Linked DNA regions of Homo sapiens. The protein of the gene in region 2 interacts with the protein of the main gene of each other region in a pairwise test. Each region holds a gene or a part of one and is shown on either strand. Other genes may lie near its edges.

Evidence for each region. Proteins that work in one complex are often made in the same cells at the same time.
Region 1: the proteins of SOCS7 (region 2) and SH3RF1 interact in a two-hybrid assay, tested with the Homo sapiens proteins (one large-scale study listed by BioGRID).

What each region holds. Positions count from the first base shown.
Region 1 is NC_000004.12:169,117,457-169,120,956, forward strand, and holds part of SH3RF1 (E3 ubiquitin-protein ligase SH3RF1), read right to left. Parts: coding exon 3,363-3,500; intron 327-3,362; coding exon 67-326; intron 1-66. UniProt on the Homo sapiens protein: Has E3 ubiquitin-protein ligase activity. In the absence of an external substrate, it can catalyze self-ubiquitination. Stimulates ubiquitination of potassium channel KCNJ1, enhancing it's dynamin-dependent and clathrin-independent endocytosis.
Region 2 is NC_000017.11:38,396,844-38,400,343, reverse strand, and holds part of SOCS7 (suppressor of cytokine signaling 7), read right to left. Parts: intron 832-3,500; 3' UTR 1-831. UniProt on the Homo sapiens protein: Substrate-recognition component of a cullin-5-RING E3 ubiquitin-protein ligase complex (ECS complex, also named CRL5 complex), which mediates the ubiquitination and subsequent proteasomal degradation of target proteins, such as DAB1 and IRS1.

The DNA.
Region 1 (3,500 bases), on a different chromosome or scaffold from region 2:
AAAAGATCTACTATTAGGCAGGTAAGCCCTTTATCCTGATATGTTCTGGCCTGGGTTCCTCCTTACCTGTCCTCACAGCATTGCGGGCCTGGTTGACTGTCATTTGCCCCGTCATGTGCAACAAGACCTTAGCCTGAGGACTTGTCTGGATGTGAGCTGCTGATACCACAGCTGCGGGGACAACACTGGGACTCCCAGCCACGCCATTTCCCTGGAGCTTCTGGGCAGGCCCTCCTGCCGTGGAAGGACTGACCATGGTCACTCCCCGACTTGTCTGGCCAGCTGTAGACATAGGGACTTTAGCTTGGGAAGCATTTGTCACCGCCCTGCCAAGACACAAACATAGATGGAAAGCCCAGTCCATCAGCAAAATGACAGAAAGAACAATTAAATGCAAGAAAAATGACTCAGAGCTTTAAACATAGAACATTTTAAAAAATGAATGGAATTATTTTTATAAAGTTTAAGAATAGAAAATTCAACGTAATGATGGCTGAGACAGAGAAAGGTCTTGAAATATATTCTGAGTCACCAGAAACCACACGTCATACTCTGCTCAAGAATATACAGTTATTGCATTCAGCTTTCCATAACAAGACCAAATATCTCCACTGACTTTCAAGGCCCTGGATTCTCCCCCTTCATCTACAGAACAAGCTAGGATCATTCCCTGACAATATCCCCATTTCCATATCTTTGCTCCTGTTTCCTGGCTTCCTACTTGCCTCCAGCTCCACATCACACATGTGCCCATGTACATGCATGCACACACATACACGCACTAGTGGAAAGTCCTCTCCGTCTTCTCTTGACATATTGTAATCTCATTTATGTTTCAAGATCCAGCATGAACACTGTCAGTTCAAGAAGCCTTGCCTCAGATTCAGGTTTAAGATCTTATGATTCTATTGTTTCATGTGGATTTCTTCTTTCATTCTGTTTCTAAACTCCACAATTGTTTATGCTTTGGCCCTTGATTACAAAATGTGGTATATTATTATTAGTAGTAGTAGTATTTTTTTTGAGACAGAGTCTCACTGTTGCCCAGGCTGGAGTGGAGTGGTGCGATCTCAGCTCACCCCTCTGCCTCTCAGGTTCAAGTGATTCTCCTGTCTAAGCCTCCCGAGTAGCTGGGAGTACAGGCACGCGCCACCATGCCCGGCTACTTTTTTGTATTTTTAGTAGAGGTGGGGTTTCACCATGTTGGCCAGGCTGGTCTCGAACTCCTGACCTCAGGTGATCCACCCGCCTCAGCCTCCCAAAGTGCTGGGATTACAGGTTTGAGCCAACGCGCCTAGCTGGTGTATTATTTTTTAAATAAATTCTTTATCAAATACTGCTGACTTGGTAAGTTCCTTGAAAGCAGGGCCAGTGTGAAATAACTCTCCTGTATTCATCCTGTATTTGCACATGCTCAGGGTTACAGCCAACTCTAAACATCTATTTACTCACTGAATGTAATTAAGTTCAGTATAGTTTTGTGTAATGTGTTTTTTTCCATATTCCAAATTCATTTAAATGATAACAATTCTGTATATAGTAACTTTCTACTAAGAAAACACTTCATTAGCTTGAACATCCTTATTATTTACCATGAATGACAGAATTTACTGTAAGCACATATTCCTCTAGAGTTAAACAAACAGATAGATTTTTTTTTTCCTTAGGATGGAGTCTTGCTCTGCCGCCCAGGCTGGAGTGCAGTGGCATGATCTCGGCTCACTGCAGCCTCCGCCTCCCAGGTTCAAGTGATTATCCTGCCTCAACCTCCAAAGTAGCTGGGTCTACAGGCACGTGCCACCATGCCTGGCTAATTTTTGTATTTTTTTTTTTTTTTTTTTTTTTTTTAGTAGAGATGGGGTTTCACCATGTTGGTCAGGCCTCAAGTGATCAACTCCTGACCTCAAGTGATCTGCCCACCTTGGCCTCCTGAAGTGCTGGGATTACAGGCGTGAGCCACTGCACCCGGCTATACAAGCAGAGAGACTTCTAATAATTGGTTTTTGATAAAGATGTTTGACAAAAAAATTTTTATAAAAATGTTTTCCTTCATTAACTTTATTTTTTTGTTCTTTGTTGCATTTCTCTTATCCATTATTATCATTATTTTGCACCAGGGAGGTTCTATCTGTCATTTTCTGGATGGGATGGATTCTGAATGTAGATTTTAACATACATAGAAAAGAATGTTTATATTGATTAAAAATTTGCAAGTCAAATTAAAGTTAACATTCTGTCACCATCTGCAACAACAGTGATTTTCATTTGATTAGGCTGCTGGCCAACCTATAAATCAAGGCCAACAGCTGACAAACATGTCAGTTCATTAAGCTATTTGTTTAAAATCAGGCGGTTTGAGGAAAGATTTAATGCAGTTAGACCTGGACTGTATATTAAACGGCCGGTGGTCAAAAACTAGGGCTCCCTCAGTGTTGATTTCATTACAGGTCATTTAACTGTTTCCAAGGCTTCTTTCCTCAGTGACCAAAAGCTGAACTATCTTTACATAAAATATATAAAATTTTGCATATCTAAAGCTCCTGTCACTCTATAACAGGGTTTCTCAACCTCAGTGACATTTTAGGCCAGATTATGATTATTTTTTGTGGGAGGCTGTCCTATGCATAGGATGTTTCACTCTTAGCCTCTATCCACTAAAGCCAGTAGCACCCCTAACCTCTAGTCGTGACAATCAAAAATATTTCTGGATATTGTCAAATGTTCCCTGGGGAGCAAAACTGCCCTCAGTTGAGAAGGATCTATGCTATACTTAAAATTTTTATTTCTGACTATATTATAGAATTCATTGTCAGAATTCAGAGGTAATTACCAAGTTAATGAAATAAATATAAATCTAGATCACCAGGGTTTGAGTTTGAGCACTTCTTCACTATGTGATCTCAGACAAGCTGTATGATATCTCTGTGCCTCAATGTAACAGCAACTAAGAAGTAAGGTTAATCAGTGTAATGCATTTATAAATCTGCCTGCCTGGCATATAGTACGCATTATATAAACACATAAGTATTAATAATATAGCTTTTCTTTGTATCAACACTATGCCTTTTCTAGTAGAAAAATACTGAAAATGGTGTTGTTGAACCTTCTCCCATTAAAGCAAATAACTTAAAACCCAGTACATTTACTGGTAGAAACCTATAATTTCACATATATCCATGTGAAAATAAGCTAAAAATTTTAGAGTTAGAAGGGATTTTAGCAGATGTAGACATGGATTTTTAAAACCTTGGCTATGTAACAGGCAATTATAATGTGAAAGGAATCTGGATAGGCTGAAAACCATGGAAAAGAACAAAGCTTCTCTGTTTAGAACATAGTAAACAATGTATTCAAAACCATACCTTGTGACTGGTGCCACATAATTGCCAGGGAAAACCCCTATCTTGCTGGTATGCATGGATGTCCCTTTGAACCAGCCATCCTGGCAGCGCTCAAACACTAAAAACATCTCCCCTTTTCTCAGCTCTAGTTCATCCTCT
Region 2 (3,500 bases):
ATGACAGCTGGCAGAAGCAATAGGGATGCTGTTACCATGATCAGAGTGACATGTACAGTTATCTCAAGGGGCAATGGGTTGAGAGCAGAGGAAGAACGGGGTTAACTTCAGGTCATGGAACTTAAGGAATTAAGTAAATCACAACTAGTACAGCTTCCATGAGAGGTGTTTCTGAACTCAGGTTCCTAAACCTTAAAAAAGGATGCAGGAGTCACTACTTCTCCCAGCTAAGGCCAATTGGCTAGGTTTTGCCCAATATTCTTTTCGAGACCACCCACCCTCCTTTCTCTCCTGCTCCTACAACAGCTGCCCATGGCAACAAGAGGCAGATTCCCCCTTCCTCAGGAACTCCCAGTCCTTTGCAAACCTCAAGCCCCTCCTCCCATCTTCCAGGCCCACAGCACAGACTCTAACTCTGCCTTTGGCACCAGCTGAATGGCCGTCCCCTGTTCCCTCCTCCCACCCCTTCTTTGGACCTGCTCACCCTTCGCACCACTTTCAATCCAACGGGCACAAACCCCAACTGCCTTCAAGGTGAGTTTTCCATACCAAGTAATATAAATATCAAAAACAAAACTTCTGAAAAAGAAACAGTGTTGAGACTTCTTCCAGTTTTCCAAGGAGCCCCTCCAGTCCTAAGATGCCCAGGGGTGGGTGTGAGGTGGAGCCCCACGCAGAGTACGGTCATGTGCTTCTTCCAAGCCCCAGGGCTGCGTGGGGAACCAAAGTCTCTGCACAGAGAATCCCAACCTTCCTGTTCCCTCACTTTTCCTCTTCTTTTCATGGTAGCTTAATTTGGTTCTTCAAAGCTGGAGCTTGGCAACCAAATGCCTAGGTAGAAAAGGAAAAAAAATTAAAACAGTTCAACAGAATAGAACCAAAATGGAGTGAAATAACAGCCAGCCACTGGAGGTGGAGCAGCACACCTCAAAAGGAGAACGGAGCCTGGAGAGCTGAACGCTTCCATGAGGGCCACATGTGACTAGGGATGCAGCAGTGGCCTTTGTCAGGGGGACCTGAGCAGCCTATGACTTGGATGACAAAACAAGGTCCTGAAATAACTAATAAATACATCCTACCACATTGCATAAATTCTCTCTTTCCCTTTCCCTTACCCCTTCATTTCCTACCCATTTTTTCCCTGAGGCTCAATTGCTCTAGGGACTGAAAAGGGAAGTAAGCCCCTGGAGTAACCCCTTTTGAACCTGGCAAGAAAGAGCTCTATATTTCTTTCTTTCTTTTTTTTTTTTTTTTTTGAGACGGAGTCTCGCTCTGTCACCCAGGCTGGAGTGCAAAGGCATGATCTTGGCTCACTGCAATCTCCACTTCCTGGGTTCAAGATTCTCCTGTCTCAGCCTCCCAAGTAGCTGGGATTACAGGCATGCGCCACCATGCCTGGCTAATTTTGTATTTTTAGTAGAGACAGGGTTTCACCATGTTGGCCAGGCTGGTCTCAAACTCCTGACCTCGTGATGAGCCCGCCTTGGCCTCCCAAACTGCTGGGATTACAGACGTGAACCATCACACCTGGCCAGAGAGCTCTGTATTTCTGCAGCTTCTGTCAACTGGACAGGGTTGACACAGAAACACAAAGGCCACTGTTGCTTCCACCTTCCGACTTGAGACAGGCACTGTTCTAGCCATTACTCTATAGTCTGACTCCAAACCCCCTGGCATGAAATTCCCCAGGTAACAGCACACATAGACCAAGCAGGCCATTCAGAACTCCCAAATTAAAATCAGCCTGAACAACAAGAAGTCATAAAGGCCAAATTTCATACCCTAAAGACCTTTCCCAATGGGGCACAGTGGCTCATGCCTGTAATCCCAGAACTTTGGGAGGCCAAGGTGGGTGGATCACTTGAGTGAGGTCAGGAGTTTGAGACCCAACTGACAAACGTGGTGAAACCCAGTCTACTAAAAATACAAAATTAGCCAGGCGTGGTGGTGCACACCTGTAATCCCAGCCTCCCACTGGGAGGCTGAGGTGGGAGAATTGCTTGAACCCGGGAGATGGAGGTTGCAGTGAGCCAAGATCACGCCATTGCACTCCAGCCCGGGCAACAAGAGCGAAACTCCATCTCAAAAAAAAAAAAAAAAAAGACCTTTCCCTTGGGAAGTGTTACTTCCTCCCTTTCCAGGGCTCCTAGGGTCTACACCAGGAGCAAGTTCAGCATTACGCTTACTCTTTGTCACAGGCATCAATACTGATGTCACAGCAAAAAGGGATCCTGGGAGTTCAGTTCAAACCTTCGCCAATATATGACTGCCCCCAACACTCAAGACAAATGGCTACCCACTGGCCTGTTCCTGATCATGCCACGTCCTTCCCAGCTGAGGCAGGGCCTTTATACCTCTAGGTCCCCTTGCCCAGAATGCTCTGCTCCAAGGCACTCCCATGGCTGGCTCCTTGATATTTGGGTATCGGCTGAAATGGCACCTCCTCACAAGTCTCTCCCTGACCATCTAAACTTGAGGAGTATCCCACCACTAATCACTAAACTTTACCCAGTTTTACTTTCCTCACAACACTGTACAGTCACCTGAAATTAGCCCATTCATTTATGTTCATGTTTGCTGCCTGTCTTTCCTTAGGAGAAGGGAAGCTGAGTGAAAACAGGGCCTTTGCTTTGCTCAGCACTCTATTCTCAATTCATACTGGGTGCCAAATAAACACAAATATACAGCTATCTGCTGAATGGAAGCTCTTGAGGAAAACCATCCCAGTTTTGGACCTCTCTGTTAAAAAGGTTCTTGTAAAGTTGGACTGAAATCTAGTTCCTTGTAACTTACATTCATTTTGGTCCTTATCCATGTCTCTTTTTGCTGTGACATGGGAGGGCCTTGGGGCAGAGCATTCTGGGCAAGGGGACCTAGAGGTATAAAGGCCCTGCCTCAACTGGGAAAGGTGTGGCATGATCAGGAACAGGCCGGCAGGGAGCCACTTGTCTTGAGTGTTGGGAGCAGTCATGCACTGGCAAAGGTTTGAACTGAACTCTCAGGATCTCTTTTTGCTGTGACATCAGGATTGTTGCCTGTGGCAAAGAATAAGCGTAATGCTGAACTTGCTCCCCACTGGAACCACAGAGAGGAGGTTAATCACTCTCTTCCTTAGGAAAACCCATCAAATGCATCTTTCAGCTATCCCTCCCTAAAACCTCCGTGCTCTGGGTTAATCACATTTCTTTCTAGGCCATTTATTCCCATATGATGAAGTTTGAGCTCTCCAATGCCACAAGGCCTTTCTCTGAACATGCTCCCTGTTTATATGGGTTCTTCTACAGCACTGCACCCACAGACGTGGTCCTCTAACTGAATGGCCTAATTACTCTTCAAGGGTAGTCAGGTAGGTGGACCTCCCTAGTGCTCTACCTCTCACCCTAATCTCAACTGCAAAGCCATCATGCAGAGAAATCCACCTAGACACAAGACATTAGATATTTAGTCATTTCCAAAGGCATACAATTTGCATATAATTGAAGACATGATGAGACTGTACA